Homo sapiens: one gene and its partners. The protein of the gene in region 1 purifies or fractionates together with the protein of each later gene. This does not show direct contact. Each region holds a gene or a part of one and is shown on either strand. Other genes may lie near its edges.

Region 1 (8,035 bases):
CACCAATTTAAAGACTTCAATTGTTTTAAGTATATTTACAGTTACGCAACCATCACCATAATCTTTTAGAACATTATCATCATCCCAAAAGGAAACCCTGTAACTATTAGTGGATACTTCCTACTCCATCTGCTCTCCCCAGTTCCAGACAACCACTAATTTCTCTATATATAGATTTGCCTATTCTGGACATTTCACACAAATAGGATCATAGAAAATATGTTCTTTTGTGACTGGCTTATTTCACTTATCCTAATGTTTATGAGATTTATCCAAGTTGTACCATGCATCAGTACTTAATTCCTTTGAACTGCTGGGTAATATTCTATTTTACAAATAGATCACATTTATCTACTCATCAGTTGATGGACACTGGGTTGTTTCTATTTGGCTATTATAAATAATACTGCTAACTCATATACAGGTTTTTGTGTGAATATATTTTTTGAATTCTCTTGGGTATATGAAATTTCTGGGTCATATGGTTACTCAGCTTATCTTTTTGAGGAATTACCAAAATCAGTCACACTATCTTACATTCCTAGCGTAACAAATGAAGGTTCCAATTTTTCTACAATGCTCACCAACACTTACCTGTTCTTTCTGATTATAGCCATCCTAGCAGGTGTGAAGTGGTGTCTCATTATGGTTTTGACTAATGATGCTTAGCATATTTGCATATGCTTAATAGCCATGTACATGTATTTTTTAGTGAAGTGTCTATACAAATCTTTGGACCATTTTAAAAACTGAGTTATTGTTTTCTTATTACTGAGTTCTGAGAATTTTTTATATACTCCAAGCCCCTTATAAGATACATCTTCTGTATCCTGTCTTCATTCTGTTAAGTGTCTTTCTAATTTTGAAAGAAATTCTGAATTTTGATGCCATCTGATTTATCCACTTCTTTTATGGATCATGCTTTTGGAGTCATACCTAAGAGATCTTGGTCTAACCCAAGATTCCGAAGAATTTCTCCTATATTTTCCCCTAGAAGTTTCATAGTTTTAGGTTTTTCATTGAGGTCTAACAGCCCTTTGAGTTAATTTTGGTATATGGTACAAGCTATAGCTCAAAGTTCTTTTTTTTTTCCTACAGCTATTCAACTATTCCAGTGCCATTTGTTGAAAAACGATATCCTTTATATTTTATGCAATTGCTTTTGCACTTCTGTCCAAAAATCAACTGTCCATGTATGTGTGGATCTATTTCTGGACTCTATCCTACACTACCAGACAAATGGATTTTAATTTAACAGTTAATTTAATTTTTTAAGGTGACTGCCATGTTTTCAGATACGTTAAGAAACTACCACTTGTCAAGTTTTGACATAGTATCAAAGAACATACAAACATCTGAAAATATTCATCCCTTTTCAAGCTATAAATCTGTGTGATGCCGAGTTTTTATATACACTAACCAAAACACTTAACAAAGTGACTGCAAAGGGAGAGATGAGAATCCAATTGTCTTATAATAATCCAGATAACGTTATTTTTATTAACATATATTGAGTTTATTGTTACTTTTAAATATTCTAAATAATTTGTATTCATTCTTCATTTCTAATATGGTAAATATCTATCTTTACATATAAAACCCACATAAACAAAAGTCCTTTGGGTCCTCAATTTTAAGAATGTAAAGGGGTCTTGGGACAAAGCTTTGAAAACCACTACTCTAGCTACATCAATGCTCTTCAAACTGTTCCATTCAATAGAAATGCCTCTTGGCACTTTTCAAGGACTTGGAATGAAGAAATGAAACATGCAGAAAACATTGTTGCACAGGTCCTAGATACGTAGTAGACATGTACCCAATATTTGGTAAATGGGGAAGTAATCAAAAAAGACATGGAATCTCCAATATTCTATTTCAAAAGTGTTATAACAGAACTGCACCCTAAACAGGGTAAATTTGTGTGTAAATTATACTTTATTAACCTGATTCCATCTTTACAGAATACATTAAGAGGTGACAGAAGGGAAGGAGAGAGACAGGAAAGTAAAAAGTGTATTACAGCCAGGCACAGTGGCTCACACCTGTAATCCCAGCACTTTGGGAGGCCGAGGTGGGCGGATCACCTGAGGTCAGGAGTTCAAGACCAGCCTGACCAACATGGAGAAACCCCATCTCTACTAAAAATACAAAATTAGCCAGGTGTGGTGGTGCATGCCTGTAATCCCAGCTACTCGGGAGGCTGAGGCAGGAGAATCCCTTGAATCCAGGAGGCGGAGGTTGCCATGAGCCGAGATCGCGCCATTGCACTGCAGCCTAGGCAACAAGAGCTAAACTCCGTCTCAAAAAAAAAAAGATATTATAATGAAGTTAAGTTATAAAAAATAAGTGTACAGGGAATGCTTCAGTCTTCCAAGCCTTCAAGAATTCATGTCTATCATGGGCTGAATTGCACTGCCCCTCCCCCCGTAATTCACGTGTTGAAGCCCTAACCTGCATGTATACACAATGTAACTATATTTGGAGACAGGATCTTTAAAGAGGTAATTAAGTTAAAATGAGGTCCTTAGAGTAGGCCCTAATCCAATATGACTAGCGTCTTTAAAAAAAGAAGAGATTAGGACATAGAGGGACAACTACATGAAGACATACAGAGAGAAGACTACATGAAGACACAGAAGACAATCATCTACAAGCCAAGGAGAGAGACCTCAGAAGAAACCAGGCCTACCAACACCTTCATCTCAAACTTCTAGCCTCCAGAGTTGAGAAAACAAATTTCTCTTAAGCACCCAATCTGTAGTACTTTGTTACAGCAGCCCCTGCAAACTAAAACAATATCTAAAACTGAACTACTTATCTCTTTCCATTCCCATTTGAAATAATATAAAAATCAATCATTTTTAACTCCTCCTCCTTATATTACCTCTTCAATTACTATGTTCTATTAATTCTACCTTGGTCTATTTCTTCTTTTCCATTCTTTCCATTCCCTCTACCTTAATGTAACTCCTATATCTCATCTAGCCTACTGCAACAGCATTCTAAAATATAGTCTGAATTATTAAGTTTTCCCTTGGGGGGTTCTTACTTCCTATTCACTTTTCAAGAACTCTTTCTGTTCTAACTGTATTATACTAAAAATAAGTGATCTTCATAGTCTTACAGGACAGAAGTAAAACCCACTAAAGTAAGCCTGGCCTGGAAGAAATGGGAAGTAGGCATCTGGAAGAGGATAGCCCAGCAATAATCACTCACAGGGCTTCAGTCTAAAAAGTATTCTAATTGAGCAATATAGCAGATCTCTTTTGCACTGTCTTACCAGCTCAAGAATGGACACAGCCAGTCATGATTCTTATTCTTCCATTACCTTTCCCACCACCACCCAGCTACCTGGATCAAAAGGATAAGCAACTGACCCAAGATGAGCCAGTGAGATTGTAGCTTCCAGAAATTTGAATTTAAGACAAACAAAAACTTGTCTTAACCAGGAAAGAGATAGACTCAGTAACCCTGGGGGATTGGTTTCAGGAAGTCCACAGGTGCCAAAATCCACAGATGCTCAAGTCCCTTATGTAAAACAGCATAGTATTTCCAAGTAACCTATGCACATCCTTCCATATACAGGAGTCCCCTGAACAAGAGTTAGGGGCACCGACCTCCTGCACAATCAAAAATCCACATACAGCCGGGCGCGGTGGCTCACGCCTATAATCCCAGCACTTTGGGAGGCTGAGGCAGATGGATCACCTGAGGTCAGGAGTTCAAGCCAATATGATGAAACCCCATCTCTACGAAAAATACAAAATTAGCCAGGCATGGTGGTGCATGCCTGTAATCCCAGCTACTCGGGAGGCTGAGGCAGGAGAATCGCTTGAACCTGGGAGGCGGAGGTTGCAATGAGCTGAGATGGTGCCACTGTACTCTAGCCTGGGCAAAAAGAGCAAAACTCTGTCTCAAAAAAAAAAAAAAAAAAAAAACACACACACATACAACTTTTGACTCCCGAAAAACTACTAATGGAAAACTACTAACAGCCTACTGGTGACCAGAAGCCTTCCCATAACATAATACAACATAAACAGTAGATTAATACACATATTGTACTACTTTTTTTTTGAGACGGAGTCTTGCTCTGTTGCCCAGGCTGGAGTGCAGTGGCGCGATCTCGGCTGACTGCAAGCTCCGCCTCCCACGTTCACGCCATTCTCCTGTCTCAGCCTCCCAAGGAGCTGGGATTACAGGCACCCGCCACCACATCCAGCTAATTTTTTCTATTTTTAGTAGAGACAGGGTTTCGCCATGTTGTCCAGGCTGGTCTCGAACTCCTGACCTCAGGTGATCTGCCTGCCACCGCCTCCGAAAGTGCTGGGATTACAGGCGTGAGCCACCGCACCCAGCCTTTGTATTACATTATACTAGGTATTATGAGTACTCAGGAGATTATTTAAAGTACAGATCTGTGAACATCACAGTTTGAACTACATGGGTCCACTTATACGCGGATTTCTTTCTTCAATAAATATATTGGAGAATTTTTTGGAAATTCACAACAATTTAAAAAAAGATGAACTGTGTAGCTTAGAAGGAGCAAAAAAAATAAAATTATGCCATGAATGCATAAACTGTATTATATGTATTGCGTACTGTATTATATGCTGCATTCTTACAATATGTATTGTAATATTATATACTGTATTCTATATTATATACTTTATTTTTACAATAAAGCTAGAGAAAAAAATTAAGAAAATCAGAAGGAAATTACATTTACAGCACTGTACCATATTTATTGATACCTGTCTGTTTACAAGATAAATCATTCTGAAATGGCCAGCAACCACAGCTACAAACCTCAATCTATGGCACATATGAAGCAATTCGACTTTTTCTTCATAATGTCATGCCTTTTTTCAGCTTCCTGGAGCACTTCCAGCATCACTTAGTGGCACCTCATATGGATCCCATCATGTTATTCAAAGTTTAGGGTACTGCACTAAATGCAATGAAAAATACAAGAGAATCCAGAGAGATACTTTTTACCATATACAATTTACTGGAGAGATGAGCTCCAACAACAGCAACACTTGAGCTCACAACAACAGCAACGGAAGGTGGCCACAAAATTATTACAGTAGCACAGTATGCACTACGGTTAATTTCATGCAGTTATGATTTAATACTGTATCTTTAAGTTTCTTTACATCTCTCAACTGTGAATGGTGCCATGTACAGTCTCCATTACATGTTTGTGTGTGTAAGTTTTGATAAATTTTAACATTTCATGACAGATTTGTATATATTTTATGATAGTGAGTAAAAGACTAGTATCTACATATATTTTATGCATTAATGACATAACTTTTTAACTTTCTCACTATTTCTAGACTACACAGTTCATCTGCAAGTTTTTTCAAATTGCTGCAAATCTCCAAAATTTTTTTCAATATATTTATTGAAGAAAAAAATCCATGTGTAAGTGGACCCATGTAGTTCAAAAACCCATGTTGTTCAAGAGTCAACTGTACTTTAAATTATCTCTAGATTACTTAGAATAATTATAACATAAATGTTATGTAGTCATCATACTGTATTGTTTGAGGAATAATGACAAGAAAAAAAGGCTGTACATGTTCAGTACAGAGGTAATCATCTATTTTTTTCCAAGTATTTTCCATCTGACATTGGATGAATCCACAGATGCGAAACCCACAAATACAGAAAGCTGGCTGCATATCAAGACAATTTATGTCTCACGTCAGCTCAAAACCCTCCCATAGCTCCCTATCTCACTATAAAAGTCAATGAAGTCCTACATGCTCTCTCCCCATTGGCTCCATATCTTTCTGACCTCATATTATACTTACTCTTCTCCAACTCTTTTACTCCGTTACAGCTACACTGCTCTCCTGGTGATTTATTGAACACTCTAGGCATGCTCCCATCTTAGACACTTCACATAGGCTATGTTCCCTCTGCCTGGAATGCTCTGCCCAGAGTATCTGCATGGCTAACTCCTTCTCCTTTGCTCCTTCTCAGTGAGGCCTTCCTTTACTGCTATATTTAAAACTGCGACCCCTAGTGAGCCAAGATCGCGCCACTGCACTCCAGCCTGGGTGACAGAGCAAGACTCCGTCTCAAAAAAAAAAAAAAAAAAAGCAACCCATGCCCTCATATCCTGGCACTTCTTATTCCCTCCCAATTCACTGTTCTCCACAGCGTTTATAACCTTCTAGTTATGCCATATAATTTACATGTTTATTTTGTCTTAAGCTAATAACTATAATGTAAGCTCTATGAAAGAAAGGATTTTCTCTATATTGTTCCTTGCCTAGCCCAAATGCATAGAATAGTGCCTGGCTCATAACAGGTCCTCAGTAAACATTTAACGAATAAATGCATGTACACTTGGTCACAAGCATGCCAAAACAGTGAAAGGTAATGCGTGGTAAGAAACATGCAGCAGACATCTCTGGAAACAAAGAAGACTGTGTGGGTCTAGAAAGAGAGGAACTAGCTGTCTGATTCTGACAACTTTCTATCCTTTTAACTCATTTCTTCCAAATTTAAGTTACCTCAAATTTTTGCCATAGTGATATAGAACATGATCAACCATAATACTCTTTAGCTTCACACTTTTCGAATGAATATGTTCCGTAAAGCATAAAGAACAGCTGCTTTGGTATTCTGTAATAAAATTACTAAGACTTTGTATTATGTTGTGCTAATACAAGCAGTAATTTAGCAAAATGGAAAAGAAAAAAAAAAAAACCTCAGCTTTATATCACTGAGCCGAAATGTGGGCATTCTATGACAAAATGTTTAATATTATCTTTGAGAACTGCACATCAACACTTGCAACATCTATTCCAATATTGTACTGCTTTTCCTTTAAAAAAAAAAAAAAAAAAGTATATCCTTGACCAAAGGATAGACTTTTCTCTGAAACTGAGAAATCTCAGTGCATTACAGGATCGGACTCCTAACCCATAAAATGAGGAGGGCAAATGTCTAAGGTCTCCTATAGCTCTGAAGTTTAAAAATGTCAGGATGGATAGCAGTTGACATAACACATCTGCACTCATACAAATAACATATACACAGTAAGAATGATTTATCCATCCCTGTATTATGAGAATGGATTATAAACCTGTTGATTTTACAAAAATTAATTTAATACTGAAGAAACTTTAGAGATCTTTAAAATCTAGCAAACAATTAGTATGAAACAGCCATGTCGGAACTAAGTATTACTACAAATGCATAACATTCTGAGCATCAGACTATCATATATGGTACCATCAGAGGCAAGCAATGTGCTATTTTTAAAAGGAAGGGAAGACTTACTATACGCACGGTTGATGTGTTTGTAACATTCTTAATCTCTTTGCTCAGAATATTAAAATATATTTTTAAAGGACAGAGAACCGGCCAGGAACGGTAGCTCACGCTCGTAATCCCAGCATTTTGGGAGGTTGAGGCGGACAGATCACCTGAGGTCAGGAGTTTGAGACCAGTCTGGCCAACATGGCGAAACCCCATCTCTACTAAAAACACAAAAATTAGCAGAGGGAGGTGGCGCGCTCCTGTAATCCCAGCTACTCAGGAGGCTGAGACAGGAGAATCGCTTGAACCTGGGAGGTGGAGGTTGCAGTGAGCAGAGATCATGCCACTGCACTTCAGCCTGGGCAACAGGGCAAGACTCCATCTCGGAAAATAAAATAAAATAAAATAAAATAAAATAAAATAAAATAAAATAAAATAAAATAAAATAAAATAAATAAAAAACAGAACCACAACAGTATAAGTGTTTTCAAAAGTAGGTGATACTGATTTTTTTTTAATTTAGTTTTATGTTTGGCCATACTTTGAATATCTCCTACCAAAAAATTTCTAAGCAGATTTAAAAAACCTAAGTCGCATTTTTTAAAGAAATAACCTATAATAACTGATTTCACAAATAGAACATTTTTTATTAGTTTTTTGGCATCTTTGCTATATCATTTTTAATCCTCTATAACCCTCCCTTTTCCTTTAAGTGTTATTTCAACTTAAATTTAATTGTAAAAATGTCAGA
Region 2 (6,516 bases), on another chromosome or scaffold:
GAATATCTTTATGAAAATACAGGAAATATTTTAAAAATAGGCTAGAAAACTCACTATTAAAATATATAAAATATAAGAACATCTGTTCATCAAAAGTACTATAGTTTGAATAGCAGTGTCTCCTCCAAAATTCATATTGAAACTTAATCCCCATTGTAACAGTACTAATCCTAAAACTAAGTATTAAGAGGTGTGACCTGTGGGAAGTGACTAAGTCATGAGGGGTCTTTCCTCAGGTATGGGATTAGCATCCTTATAAAAGGCCTTGAGATGGAATGTAGTGCCCCCTTGCCCTCTTGCGTTCTCCCATGTGAGGACACAGCAACAAGGCACCATCTTGGAAGGAGAGAGAAGCCCTCACCAGACAACAGTGCACATGCCTTGATCTTAGACTTCCCAGCCTCCAGAGCTATAATAAATACATTTCTGTTCTTTATAAATTACTTGGTCTCTGGTATTTTGTTACAGAAGCACTAATGGACTAAGACAAAAAGATTCCATTATGAAAGTGAAAAGGCAACCGCAGAGTGGCAGAAGCTTTTGGAGATGATGAATATGTTTACTTCCTGGATTGCGGTGATGATACCATGAGTGTATACATATGTGTGTATACATAATGTATACAAATTGTGTTCATTGATTATGTACAGTTTCTTTGTATACCAATTATACCTTAATAAAGCTAAGGAAAAAAAAAAGAAAATCCAGAATAAATATGCATGGTATGACCCATTTATTTAAAAAAAAAAAGAGGGAATGCGAAGCAGTGGTTTTGGTGCGAACACAAAAATTCTGGCTTCAACAGCATTTAAATTCCCAAACCAAGCATGTTTGTGTTTTAATTCTTTGTGGCCATAAATTGTACAGCTCAGGCCTTTATAGTCTCTCAGATTCTGTGAATGTGGGGAATTAGTTTTACTCATAAAAAGTTTTGTTCTTGGGGATAAATTTTTTAAAAAAATTTTTGTATAGTTAGCACACTGAGAAAATACAGACAAAGGCATACAGATGCAAGAAATGAGGTAGCTGAATAGACCAAAGAATGATATAGGGCCCAGAAGGTAGGCAAAGAGAAAGTTGTTGGGTTTATGGTTACAAGTAAACTAGCAGTTGTGGTGCAGATAGTTTTATTTCCCCCACATTAATCTGAACAGCCCATCCAGACTTAAACACTGCTTTTTGCATTTACTTCTAGGCAGGAAGACAGGGTTCTGATGGTGTGAGTCTCCTTCAACTCAGCAAACCACCTTGGTCTGCCTCGAGTTTCCAACACCCCTCCTGCCTGCTAGTGATAGGTGTGAGGCAGGTTGATGAACATGGAACTTTTTTCTTTTGGTCCCAAAGCATGCTACTCCTGGAGTTTCATTCAGTGAATGAGAACTATAGTTTGGTTCTGTGAGATCTCTATGAATCAAGGCGGCCACTGAAGCGGAGAAAAGAAATGCTTAAATGTTAAGAAAGTTTGAAGTGCAGAAAAAGGTGATTGTAAATCCATATGGTTAAGCTTAGCCCATTTCTTAAAAGGCTTGATTGCTCATTCCTCCATTCATTGATTTACTCACTCTTCCAATCCATGTTATTGAGTCTTGCTCTGTAATTCCGGATGGTTGTGCTTTTAAGTACTGCATAGTGGTTGTATGTCTGTGTTAGCATTGCTGAATGTATCAGGGAATTCATTTTTTTATCCCCATTCATTCGTTCCATTCATCTGTTTCTCTCTCTCTCTCTCTTTGTGTGTGTGTGTGTGTGTGTGTGTGTGTGTGTGTGTGTGTGTGTTATGCCTAGAAAACATTTCTCAAGAATTAGAATTACGATATGCTGTCAAACACAATGACTTATTTGAACCTCTTTTATTTGTAGGTTGAAGCACTGGACAATGCCACATACTTTGTGGATGGTGTGGGTCTTGGGGGTCATCATCAGCCTCTCCAAGGAAGAATCCTCCAATCAGGCTTCTCTGTCTTGTGACCGCAATGGTATCTGCAAGGGCAGCTCAGGATCTTTAAACTCCATTCCCTCAGGGCTCACAGAAGCTGTAAAAAGCCTTGACCTGTCCAACAACAGGATCACCTACATTAGCAACAGTGACCTACAGAGGTGTGTGAACCTCCAGGCTCTGGTGCTGACATCCAATGGAATTAACACAATAGAGGAAGATTCTTTTTCTTCCCTGGGCAGTCTTGAACATTTAGACTTATCCTATAATTACTTATCTAATTTATCGTCTTCCTGGTTCAAGCCCCTTTCTTCTTTAACATTCTTAAACTTACTGGGAAATCCTTACAAAACCCTAGGGGAAACATCTCTTTTTTCTCATCTCACAAAATTGCAAATCCTGAGAGTGGGAAATATGGACACCTTCACTAAGATTCAAAGAAAAGATTTTGCTGGACTTACCTTCCTTGAGGAACTTGAGATTGATGCTTCAGATCTACAGAGCTATGAGCCAAAAAGTTTGAAGTCAATTCAGAATGTAAGTCATCTGATCCTTCATATGAAGCAGCATATTTTACTGCTGGAGATTTTTGTAGATGTTACAAGTTCCGTGGAATGTTTGGAACTGCGAGATACTGATTTGGACACTTTCCATTTTTCAGAACTATCCACTGGTGAAACAAATTCATTGATTAAAAAGTTTACATTTAGAAATGTGAAAATCACCGATGAAAGTTTGTTTCAGGTTATGAAACTTTTGAATCAGATTTCTGGATTGTTAGAATTAGAGTTTGATGACTGTACCCTTAATGGAGTTGGTAATTTTAGAGCATCTGATAATGACAGAGTTATAGATCCAGGTAAAGTGGAAACGTTAACAATCCGGAGGCTGCATATTCCAAGGTTTTACTTATTTTATGATCTGAGCACTTTATATTCACTTACAGAAAGAGTTAAAAGAATCACAGTAGAAAACAGTAAAGTTTTTCTGGTTCCTTGTTTACTTTCACAACATTTAAAATCATTAGAATACTTGGATCTCAGTGAAAATTTGATGGTTGAAGAATACTTGAAAAATTCAGCCTGTGAGGATGCCTGGCCCTCTCTACAAACTTTAATTTTAAGGCAAAATCATTTGGCATCATTGGAAAAAACCGGAGAGACTTTGCTCACTCTGAAAAACTTGACTAACATTGATATCAGTAAGAATAGTTTTCATTCTATGCCTGAAACTTGTCAGTGGCCAGAAAAGATGAAATATTTGAACTTATCCAGCACACGAATACACAGTGTAACAGGCTGCATTCCCAAGACACTGGAAATTTTAGATGTTAGCAACAACAATCTCAATTTATTTTCTTTGAATTTGCCGCAACTCAAAGAACTTTATATTTCCAGAAATAAGTTGATGACTCTACCAGATGCCTCCCTCTTACCCATGTTACTAGTATTGAAAATCAGTAGGAATGCAATAACTACGTTTTCTAAGGAGCAACTTGACTCATTTCACACACTGAAGACTTTGGAAGCTGGTGGCAATAACTTCATTTGCTCCTGTGAATTCCTCTCCTTCACTCAGGAGCAGCAAGCACTGGCCAAAGTCTTGATTGATTGGCCAGCAAATTACCTGTGTGACTCTCCATCCCATGTGCGTGGCCAGCAGGTTCAGGATGTCCGCCTCTCGGTGTCGGAATGTCACAGGACAGCACTGGTGTCTGGCATGTGCTGTGCTCTGTTCCTGCTGATCCTGCTCACGGGGGTCCTGTGCCACCGTTTCCATGGCCTGTGGTATATGAAAATGATGTGGGCCTGGCTCCAGGCCAAAAGGAAGCCCAGGAAAGCTCCCAGCAGGAACATCTGCTATGATGCATTTGTTTCTTACAGTGAGCGGGATGCCTACTGGGTGGAGAACCTTATGGTCCAGGAGCTGGAGAACTTCAATCCCCCCTTCAAGTTGTGTCTTCATAAGCGGGACTTCATTCCTGGCAAGTGGATCATTGACAATATCATTGACTCCATTGAAAAGAGCCACAAAACTGTCTTTGTGCTTTCTGAAAACTTTGTGAAGAGTGAGTGGTGCAAGTATGAACTGGACTTCTCCCATTTCCGTCTTTTTGATGAGAACAATGATGCTGCCATTCTCATTCTTCTGGAGCCCATTGAGAAAAAAGCCATTCCCCAGCGCTTCTGCAAGCTGCGGAAGATAATGAACACCAAGACCTACCTGGAGTGGCCCATGGACGAGGCTCAGCGGGAAGGATTTTGGGTAAATCTGAGAGCTGCGATAAAGTCCTAGGTTCCCATATTTAAGACCAGTCTTTGTCTAGTTGGGATCTTTATGTCACTAGTTATAGTTAAGTTCATTCAGACATAATTATATAAAAACTACGTGGATGTACCGTCATTTGAGGACTTGCTTACTAAAACTACAAAACTTCAAATTTTGTCTGGGGTGCTGTTTTATAAACATATGCCAGATTTAAAAATTGGTTTTTGGTTTTTCTTTTTTCTATGAGATAACCATGATCATAAGTCTATTACTGATATCTGAATATAGTCCCTTGGTATCCAAGGGAATTGGTTGCAGGATCCTCGTGGATATCAAAATTCATAGATGATCAAGTCCCTTATAAGAGTGGCATAGTATTTGCATATAACCTGTGTACATTCTCCTGTATACTTTAAATCATCTCTAGATTACTTATGATACCCAATACAATGTAAATACTATGTAAATAGTTGTACTGTCTTTTTATTTATATTATTATTGTTATTTTTTATTTTCAAAATTTTTAAAACATACTTTTGATCCACAGTTGGTTGACTTCATGGATGCAGAACCCATGGATATAGAGGGCCAACTGTAATCTGTAGCAACTGGCTTAGTTCATTAGGAAACAGCACAAATGAACTTAAGATTCTCAATGACTGTGTCATTCTTTCTTCCTGCTAAGAGACTCCTCTGTGGCCACAAAAGGCATTCTCTGTCCTACCTAGCTGTCACTTCTCTGTGCAGCTGATCTCAAGAGCAACAAGGCAAAGTATTTGGGGCACTCCCCAAAACTTGTTGCTATTCCTAGAAAAAAGTGCTGTGTATTTCCTATTAAACTTTACAGGATGAGAAATACTAGAGGGTGTATTTTCATGTGATCTGGATCTGTCTTTCTGGCTATTAGATAGGTTTCTCCAGCCATAGTTACTTGAGAGAGTGAGTACACAGTGCAAGGTACAGTAAATTATGTATTTCTGTAATTTAACAAAATAAATACTCAGTTTAGGAGAATTTGAAAGACACTTCCCACATCCGGACTCTGGTCTTCCTCAGCCTCTAACTACCTTTTGAGTTCTAGTTATTGTCCAATCACTCTGACTCTCAGTTCCTGTTTTTTAGCCTATATCTCCTGCATCTTGTTGCTTTTTCCTTCTTCGAAAAGTCTTGTTTTTAATTCTAAAAAAGCCTGCCCTTTTTCCCCTTCTGAATATTTTAAAAAGTACATGTGAGCTAAATAGATTTTTAAGCAAATATATACCTAGAGTTTCCTCATAATGACTCAAAAATAGTTTGATACACAGTAATTTAAAGGTAGATACTACTACCATATGTTAATTTTGCAATCTAGGTATAATAATACCACACATTAAATTTTGATGCAACTTTCTTTGGTAAGCACTATTTGCTGATTCTATGTAACTTTCTTAAGCTGGGAACCATGTGAAAGGAAGTGAGCCTTTGACCCCTGCTCAATTCTCAACCAGAACTGGGTGTATGTGGTTAATTGGGCACTAGAGTCAGAAAGACCTGGGTTAGTAGATGTGTAATCTTTGGCAAGTCAGTTGACATGACCCAAAAAGTTTTTCTGTCTTTAAAATAGGGATGATGATCTCTATATCCTAAGATACTGAGAGTATGAAATGTAGGAATGTAAGTAAACCATGAGCCTAAGCTCCTTGATTCCCATTTTCTCTGGAGGGGTGTTGAGGGCAAGAGTACCACGCCTAAGAGAATGGGCACTATGGGTTCGTGTGTGGGGTGAGGGTGATGTCTGTAGTAGATGTTAGCTATTATTATTATTTTCCAAGAAGATATTTCATTCCCTTATATATTATGGCTTGTAAGTGGATATTTTTCTGTTATGGATACTAGCAGGGATATAAGGGATCCTGCTGTTTGCAGAAAAATACCACAAAGAAATATATGCTCATTAACTGCAGAACAAGCTTGTCCTTGGGGAACTCGCATAGGGCTGCTGCTGTTTCACACGACCTCCCAGAAGAGTGTTATGGAGGAAACGGTAGCCAGCCTTAAAAAAAATCAGGCTTGGTGTAATCCCAGCACTTTGGGAGGCTAAGGCAGGAGGATTGCTTGAGTCCAGGAGTTGGAGACCAGCCTGGGAAACATGGCAAAACCCTGTCTCTACCAAAAAATACAAAATATTAGCAGGGCATGGTGGCATGTGCCTCTGGTCCTAGCTACTCGGGATGCTGAGGTGGGAGGATCACCTGAGCCCGGGAGGTCCAGGCTGCAGTGAGCTGTGATTGCACCACTGCACTCCAGCCTGGGTGACAGAGGAAGACACTGTC
Region 3 (9,014 bases), about 120 Mb from region 1:
GCACCTGGCCTAAAGACTTTTTTCAAAGCATAAGCACAGTACCACTATTACAATTTAAAAAATCAACAATGTTTATAAGTATCAAGCATCTAGTGTTAAAATTGTCCTAACTGTTCCAGCATTTTAAAAATGTTTTTTAGTTGTTATTTATTTTTATTTTTATTTATTTATTTATTTTTTGAGAGGGAATCTCGCTCTGTTGCCCGGGCTGGCGTGCAGTGGCAGATCTCCACTTACTGCAACTTCCGCCTCCCGGGTTCAAGTGATTCTCCTGCCTCAGCCTCCCGAGTAGCTGGGACTACAGGGGTGAGCCACCACGCCCAGCTAATTTTTGTATTTTTAGTAGAGGCGGGGGTTTCACCATGTTCGCCAGGATGGTTTCGAACTCTTGACCTCATGATCCGCCCACCTCGGCCTCCCAAAGTGCTGGGATTACAGGTGTGAGCCACGGCGCCCGGCTATTTCTTTTTATTGAAGTATAATTTACATATCATAAATTTTACCCATTGTTAATTTTGTGTGTGTGTGTGTGTCTATCCAATTAATCTAGCACAATTTGGTGGAAAGACTATCCTTTCCATTTTTTTTTTTTTTTTTGAGACGGAGTCTGGCACTGTCACCTGGGCTGGTGTGCAGTGGTGCGATCTCGGCTTGCTGCAACCTCTGCTTCCCAGGTTCATGCCATTCTTCTGCCTCAGGCTCCCAAATAGCTAGGATTACAGGCGCCCGCCACCACACCCGGCTAATTTTTTGTATTTTTAGTAGAGATGGGGTTTCACTGTGTTAGCCAGGCTGGTCTCAAACTCCTGACCTCGTGATCTGCCTGCCTCGGCCTCCCAAAGTGATGGGATTACAGGTGTGAGCCACTGCACTGGCTATCCTTTCCATCTGGAATTGCTTTGTCATGTTTACTGAAGATCAGTTGACTGTAGATGTGTAGGTGTATATCTGGGCTAACTTGTCTAATTTGGTGATCTGTCTGCTAATACCTATGCCGATACCACAGTCTTGATTACTGTAGTTTAATTAAAGTTTTGAAATCAGGTAATGTAAGTCTTCCTACTTTTTCAAAATCATTTTGGTTGTTTCATATAGATTTTAGGATCAGTTTGTCAATTTCTACAAATCTCTAGGATTTTTTTAGGAGTTGTATCTATAGATCAATTTGGACAGAATTGCCATCATAACAATATTGTCTTTCAATCCAGAACATAGTATGTCTCTCCACTGATTTTCATCTGTCTTGATTTCTTTCAGCCGTGTTTTTTATGTTTTAGTGTATAAAACTTGAACTTCTTTTGTTGAATTGAGTCTTAGATATTTTATTATTTTTGATGCTACTGTGAATAGAAGTTTTTTTTGATTTTTGGTAGCATATATAAATATAGTCTGTTTTCTGCATAGTGACCTTCTATCTGGCAACCTTCCAAAACTCACTTATTATCTCTGGTAGTTTTTGTTGTTGTTTTTGTTAATTTTTAAATTATTAAAAAAATTTTTTGGCCGGGTGCAGTGACTCATGCCTGTAATCCTAGCAGTTTGGGAGGCCAAGGCGGGTGGATCACCTGAGGTCGGGAGTTTGAGACCAGCCTGACCAATATGGAGAAACCCTGTCTCTACTAAAAATACAAAATTAGGCAGGCGTGCTGGCGCATGCCTGTAGTCCCAGCTACTCGGGAGGCTGAGGCAGGAGAATAGCTTGCACCCGGGAGGCAGAGGTTGCGGTGAGCCGAGGTTGCGCCATTGCACTCTAGCCTGGGCAACAAGAGTGAAACTCTGTCTCGAGGAAAAAGAAAAGAGAAAAAAAAATTGCCAGTACATAGTAGGTGTATATATTTATGGAATAAATGAGTTTCTTTTTGTTTTTGTTTTTTGAGACAGAGTCTTGCTCTGTTGCCGAGGCTGGTGTGCAGTGGCAGGATCTCGGCTTATTGCAACTTCCACCCAACCGGGATTCTTTTTTTTTTTTTTAAGAATCGGAGTCTCACTCTGTTGCCCAGCCTAGAGTGCAGTGGCCTGATCTTGGCTCACTACAACCTCTGCCTCCCGGGTTTAAGCAATTCTCCTGCTTCAGCCTCCCGTGTAGCAGGGACTACAGGCACATGCCGCCATGCCTGGCTAATTTCTATTGTATTTTAGTAGAGACGGGGTTTCATCGTGTTGCCCAGGCTGGTCTCGTGAGCTCAGGCAATTCACCAGCCTCAGCATCCCAAAGTGCTAGGATTGCAGGACTGAGTCACCGCACCCGGCCACCCCCCGGGTTTTAAGTGATTCTCCTGCCTCATCCTTCTGGGTAGCAGGGATTACAAGCATGGGCCACCATGCCCGGCTAATTATTGTATTTTTTAGTAGAGATGGGGTTTCACCATGTTGGTCAGGCTGGTCTCGAACTCCTGGCCTCAAGTGATCTGCTCACCTTGGCCTCCTAAACTGCTGGGATTACAGGGTTGAGCCACCGCGCCTGGCCCAGAGATGTTTGGATACAGGCATGCAATGTGAAATAAGCATATCAGGGAGATTGGAGTATCCATCCGCTCGAGAATTTATCCTTGATTTACAAGTAATCCAATTACATTCTCTTTTTTTTTTTTTTTTTTGAGATGGAATTTCGCTCTTGTTGCCCAGGCTGGAGTGCAATGGCGTGATCTCGGCTCACCACAACCTCCGCCTTTCGGTTTCAAGCGATTCTCCTGCCTCAGCCTCCTGAGTAGCTGGGATTACAGGCATGCAGCCACTATGCCCAGCTAATTTTGTATTTTTAGTAGAGACGGGGTTTTTCCATGTTGGTCAGGCTGGTCTTGAATTCCTGACCTCAGGTGATCAGTACGCCTCGGCCTCCCAAAGTGCTGGGATTACAGGCATGAGCCACTGCGCCCGGCCGACTAGTTTTAAAAAAATTTTGTTAGCAGTGTGAACTCATAGATGTTAACATATGCAGTGTATTTCAGTCTATTGAAATTTTTCATTTTTATGCTCAAATCATCCCATCTTTGGCAAGTAGGAGCCAGTTTGGTTCCTCAGTCATTCTAAATGACCGTAGTACCCTGGTATTCTTTTATTTATTTATTTACTTATATATTTAAGTTTTGCATTTTGATATAAGATGTCCCAGACTCACAGAAAGGCCTTTTGAGATAGCAAGACAAATTTGGCGGATTTAATTTCAGCCAAAGGAAGAGAATAATGTCAGCTTTTCTTTCCTCACCCCCAGAAATTTGATAGAAACCAGGACAATTGTGAAGGCAGTTTTCTCACTGAAAAGAAGTGCACGTTGGTGGTGAGACAGTTAAATAAGGATTCTAACCTGTGGACTACATTTGTTGTCATTAGAGGGGGTATATACAGTATTTATTCAAAGACGCTCAAGCCTGTAATCCCAGCCCTTTGGGAGGCCGAGGCGGGAGGACTGCTTGAGCCCAGGAGTTTGAAATCAAACTGGGTCAAACAGTGAGACCTCATCTCTAGAAAAAAATTTAAAAACGGGGTGGGAAGATCGCTTGAGCCCAAGGGGTTGTGGCTGCAATGAGCCATAACTGAGCAATTGCACCTGGGTGACAGCGAGACTGTGCCTAAAAAAAAAAAAAAATTGAAAGACAATTCTAACATCCAATTCTAACATCTAATTCTAACATCTGTAAGCGTATCTGTCCCAAACACAGAGCTAAAGTAAAAACACAGGAAGGGGCCGGGCGCAGTGGCTCATGCCTGTAATCCCAACACTTTGGGAGGCCAAGGCGGGTGGATCACCTGAGGTCAGGAGTTTGAGACCAGTCTGACCAACATGGTGAAACCCCATCTCTACTAAAAATATAAAATTAGTCGGGCGTGGTGGCGCATGCCTGTAATCCCAGCTACTTGGGAGGCTGAGATAGGAGAATTGCTTGAACCCGGGGAGGTGGAGATTGCAGTGAGCCAAGATCGCGCCATTGCACTCCAGCCTGGGCAACAAGAGCGAAACTCTTGTCTCAAAAAATAAAAAAATCAAACAAACACACATACAGGAAAGGAAAGGAGATAATAAAAAGGAAGGAGTAGTAACCACAGGGCATCCATGTTGGAGTATCCAGATCAGCTTCCTTTTCATTAGTCATAAATCCTTTTGGTGCTCTGTCCTGTTGGCTTTTCATGCACCTTCAAATCATGTATGGGGGTATGAGAAAGATAGTTTAAAAAGGAAAGGTTTGTTGTTCCACTGTTAGGGGTGAGGGAGGTACTTAGCGAAATGATGACTAGTAATAAGCTCTAGAACTGTGGGCTCTTTTATCCATGTCCATTGTTTCATATTCTTCTGGACCCACAAGATGGCACTTGAGGATCTACAACAGCAAAACCATACCAACGTATTTAGAATAAAAGAATCATCCACAGGGACAGATTAATGATGCATCTTTCTGGCCTAACAGTGTCTTTTTGATGGGCATAGAGATAAGGGGACTATGGCCACACCATCAGAATTGTATTATTCAATTAATAATGCCTACCACTTTGAAATGCTTCCTGTGCCCCAGGACACTGTGCTCATCACTTTACATCTCATTTCATCTATAAGACTCTATATAACGTCATTTCCACTTTACAGCTGAAGAAACTTAACTTTAAGTTACATAACCTGCTGACTGTGAACTATCACATGTGCTGAAGTTGGGATTCACCAAGCGGCCAAAAAGCACAGGTTCCCCTTACCATTGCTATGTTAACCAATAGACTGATGTATTTTAAATCAGTTTCTATTTTTTCAACCTCATAAGTTTGAAAAGCTGCACTCTGCACTGATTTAGCACTGACTGGTGGCTGCTTAAAGCTTGCCTTATTCCATTTTAGCAGGCCCCCCGGCAAAATACCCCAATTAGTGGTGTCATCCTCTCTATTCCAAGAATTTTCTCTTAAGACTCCCGCTCTGTGCGTTTGCTTGGGAATGCAGAGCCCTGTTCCTCATCTCCCCATCTATGCTTTCTTCATTCTAAGCCCTTTCCTATCTACTTTATGCTCGAGGTGGCTCCACCTCCACCATGAGCCAGAGCCAATGATGCTCACGGCCCCAACCATGATTAAAAAGAGATTGCCCTGCAAGGTAAATCAGTTAAAACCAACCTCTCCTGCCCTGAGTGGATAGGTAGGGTTAGGGTTGCCAGATGTCACGAAGTTACAGGATGCTCAGTTTTAAGGTATATCCCTTATACTATAAGGGTTATAGTAAAAAATATTCATTATGTGAAATTCAAATATAACTGGGTATCAGGTATTCTATGTGGCAACCCTAGGTAGGGGAGCACAGGTTAGGCAAGCGATTAGAAGATTTGCAGCCTCCAAAGTTTCTGCACCTCGATGGGACACTAGAACAGGAAGGCTCCTGGGCCTTTCTGGCTCTGGGAATGAAGCGTGGAAAACCCTCCTTAGGCGGGCGCAGTGCTTCAAGTAGCCAAGCTCTGACTTCCGAGGGAAGAAAGGAGGCCATGGGCCTCTGCCAGAGCCATGCTCTGCACTCTGGGGTCAGCAGAGTTCAAAACGACCTGCAACGTCTGGCGCTTAGCTCCTAAAGAGGTCTCCAGTCCAGCGCCGACGGCCAGCGGCTAGAGGCCGTCCGCCCGACTCCAAGATGGCGCCCGCCACAGCTGCCAGGTGTTAAGATGGCGGCGCGGGGCCGCGCCCGCGCTCCCAGGCTCTCCTCCCCCAGCCTTCCTCCGGCTGGCAGCACGACTCGCGTAGCCGTGCGCCGATTGCCTCTCGGCCTGGGCAATGGTCCCGGCTGCCGGTCGACGACCGCCCCGCGTCATGCGGCTCCTCGGCTGGTGGCAAGTATTGCTGTGGGTGCTGGGACTTCCCGTCCGCGGCGTGGAGGGTGAGTGTGGGCCGGGGGCGGTGCATGAGATGATGGGGCGAGCTGAGGTCCACCCGGGCGACGCTCTGGACCTGCGCGAAGGCCGGCGGTGCGCGACTCGCCCCTTCTTGGCGTCTCCCCGGGCGCGTCTCCCCGACTTCTCTCCCCGCGCACCGCCCGCTGGTGGCCCGCGAAAGGGGGCCGGTGGGCTGAGGGCCGGTGGACGGGAGCCCGGGGGTGGTTGGGCCGCGTTCAGGCCGCCCTCAGCCCGTGGCTGGTAGCCAGGAGGGACAGTGCGGTAAGCGCTGCTGAGGCATACCCTCTGGTGATAAGCAATTTATTATTAATAACATTATATCAAATACCGACATTGTTGTGGCCGTATTAGGAGCCAGGAACTGTGCATCGTGCTTTATTTACATCATTATCCCATTTAATGCTCCCACAAACCCTGTCAGATCGGTTCCGTTTAGTGTCTCCATTTCACAGATGAAGATGCTCAGGCCCCGCCTAAGTTTGCGCTTCTGATACGTGGCAGAAGCCTGTCTCTCTGACGCCAAAGCCCAGTCTGGAGTCCACGCTGCTGGACCACTGTCTTAAGGAGGCCAGTCTTGCTCAGCTCCCTGCATGAAAAACAGACGAGAAACACGGGAGACTCCCGGTAACCCCCAACTTGCCGGTAGGGAAGGCAGCCACTCTAGAGGCATGGCGAGGGTGGAGAGTGGAGGCCTTACTTTCATGCTCCTTCACCCCACTCCTCATAGTCCTGTTAAAGTCCAGACCCTCGGTCTCGCTTGTCATTTAGACCTTAACAGGAATAGGCAGGTCTTTCTTTTCCCTGGGGTGTCCTGGATGGAGGCAGGACAGCAGAGAGTTGTGGAGAAGGGTGAGTCATAGTAACACAATTACCATGAATGAAAGCGCTCACTGTGTACCAGATGCTGTGCTCAGTGCTTTACGAGCATCATCTTTTGGAATCTTTACTGTTTTGTTTTTGTTTTTTTAAGGGATGAGGGCTTGCTCTGTTGCCCAGGCGGGAGTGCAGTGGCCCATCATGGCTCCCTGCAGCCTTGAACTCCTGGGCTTAAGTGATCCTCCCACCTGTTTCCCAAAGTGCTGGGATTACAGATGTGAGCCACTGCTCCCGGTTTATGTAATTTTTATTTTTATTTTTTTTTGAGATGGAGTCTCGCTCTGTTGCCCAGGCTGGAGTGCAGTGGCGCGATCTTGGCTCACTGCAACCTCTGACTCCCGGGTTCAAGCGATTCTCGTGCCTCAGCCTCCTGAGTAGCTGGGATTACAGGTGCCTGCCACCACACTGGGCTAATTTTTGTATTTTTAGTAGAGATGATGGTCCACCATGTTGGCCACGCTGGTCTGGAACTCCTGACCTCAGGTGATCCACCCACCTCGGCCTCCCAGAGTGCTGGGATTACAGGCTTGAGCCACCGTGCCTGGCCTTAGTAATTTTTAAATGCATATGCAGTAGATGTTATCATGCTCATTTTATAGAAGTAACTTAAGACTCAGAGCCAATAAGTCCTTTGACAAGGTCATACAGCCAGAAGTTGAGGAGCCTTGATTCAAGCCCATGTCTGCCTGACTTCAGAGCCCAACCTCTGCATTTTCACTATACTTAACTGCTAGCCTCACAGAGGGGATGGCATGGGTTGGATATCTTCTGTTTCAGCCCCTCCACCGTGCTCTGTGCCCTGTGTGGCTGTCCTGTGTGGAATAAATACCAGCTGTCCTACCGTCTTGCTTCCATTGTGTTGGAATGAGGGGAGAGTGAGGTCAGGGTATTGATTCTCTCCGCTCCCTCCCTGAGAAGTTATTGAAGGCTGGCTTTGCCCCCGGTGGAAAGCATTGAATTCTAGAAAGCTGCCCTCTGTGTTACCCTTGATGTTTCAAGGTTCTGTGACTACTTCTCTCTCCAGACTCTTAAGGTCTATGAGTGGTAACTGGCTCCTCCTCTACTGTTACTGGCCTTGGAATTCCTTACCATTGCTTTTCATTTCTCTGCACCCAGCCTACACATTAGTGGTCCCTTCATTAAACTCTCCTCAACTTGCCCAAGTTAAATGTGCTGTTTCCTGGCAGAACCCTGGCTGATTCAGGGTTCAGCTTGGGTCTTTGGTCATCATGGCCAGGCCATGAATGGGGTGAAGACAGAAGAAACTTCACCAGCTGATTTCTTCTCAGAGTAGCTGAAAATCTGAGGTGTTTTTTTTTTTTTTTTTTCTGCAGAGGATGCCACTGGCAGATTATGCTGGCCTCAGGTGCTGAGGCCCTGAGAGACTAAGCAACCTGGAGGTAGCAATGCTATCCAGGTGTCTAGGAATGGAAGCAAACTCCTGGCTTCAATACCCCTATGCCACTCTTCCCTAGGCAGTCAGCTAGCAAATTCTTACTGAGCACTCATCATATGCTAAACACTGTGCTGAGCACTGGGGATCCAGTGGTGAGTTAGAGCAGCAGGCCTTTGGGGAAGGCAGCCACTAAATAACTACAAATTACTAAGAAAATTGCAAGACTGAGAAATGCATCAAGGAGAGTCCCAGGGCGTTTTTGGGAACTGTAATGGGAGACCTCCCACCCTGGTCTGAGGGTCAGGGAATGTGTCCTTACAGAGGTGACATTTAGGGTGAGATCTGAATGAGGAGGATGAAGGATTTGGCAGGAGGAAGCTTCCCAGCAGAGAAACAGCCCTCAGGAAGGCTCTAAGGCAGGTGGGGATAGGAGGAGTGTAAATGATCAGGGACTAGAGGGATCTGATGGCCACAGGTGAGAGTGCAGACAGAGGCCACATTGGGGCCTGGTAGCTCTGCTACAGAATGCAGATGCATTCACAGGGTAGGGGAAGCCACTGAAAGAGTTTTAGCAGGGGAGTGACATGATCAGATATGCCTTTTATCTTTCAGTTTCACTTGTATTGCTGTGAAGGTCAGGGTCTGGAGGGGGGATAGCAGGCTGACCAGGGAGACCAGTTTAGGTGGCTACAGTAGTTGCCCAGACAAGAATTGGCTGTGGCCTTTGCTGAGAAGTGTTAGTTGGGATGGGGAAAGTAGATGGATTGTGAATGTGTTTAGCAGGTGAAATTTTTTTTTTTCTTTTTGAGAAGGAGTCTTGCTCTTGTCACCCAGGCTGGAGTGCAGTGGCACCATCTTGGCTCACTGCAACCTCCACCTCCTGGGTT

Evidence for each region.
Region 2: the proteins of MARCHF6 (region 1) and TLR2 purify together in Homo sapiens (affinity purification with western blotting; 2 studies listed by BioGRID). This does not show direct contact.
Region 3: the proteins of MARCHF6 (region 1) and TXNDC15 purify together in Homo sapiens (affinity purification with mass spectrometry; 4 studies listed by BioGRID and IntAct, with this or other methods). This does not show direct contact.

What each region holds. Positions count from the first base shown.
Region 1 is NC_000005.10:10,356,048-10,364,082, reverse strand, and holds part of MARCHF6 (E3 ubiquitin-protein ligase MARCHF6), read right to left. Parts: intron 1-8,035. UniProt on the Homo sapiens protein: Endoplasmic reticulum membrane-associated E3 ubiquitin ligase that plays a critical role in mitigating endoplasmic reticulum stress, the regulation of cholesterol and lipid homeostasis, and ferroptosis.
Region 2 is NC_000004.12:153,701,032-153,707,547, forward strand, and holds the end of TLR2 (toll-like receptor 2 precursor), read left to right. Parts: intron 1-1,195; exon of another isoform or gene 1,196-1,860; 5' UTR 1,861-1,876; coding exon 1,877-4,231; 3' UTR 4,232-5,229; downstream 5,230-6,516. UniProt on the Homo sapiens protein: Cooperates with LY96 to mediate the innate immune response to bacterial lipoproteins and other microbial cell wall components. Cooperates with TLR1 or TLR6 to mediate the innate immune response to bacterial lipoproteins or lipopeptides.
Region 3 is NC_000005.10:134,868,692-134,877,705, forward strand, and holds the start of TXNDC15 (thioredoxin domain-containing protein 15 isoform 1 precursor), read left to right. Parts: upstream 1-5,679; 5' UTR 5,680-5,736; coding exon 5,737-5,839; intron 5,840-6,139; exon of another isoform or gene 6,140-6,441; intron 6,442-6,552; exon of another isoform or gene 6,553-6,707; intron 6,708-9,014. UniProt on the Homo sapiens protein: Acts as a positive regulator of ciliary hedgehog signaling. Involved in ciliogenesis.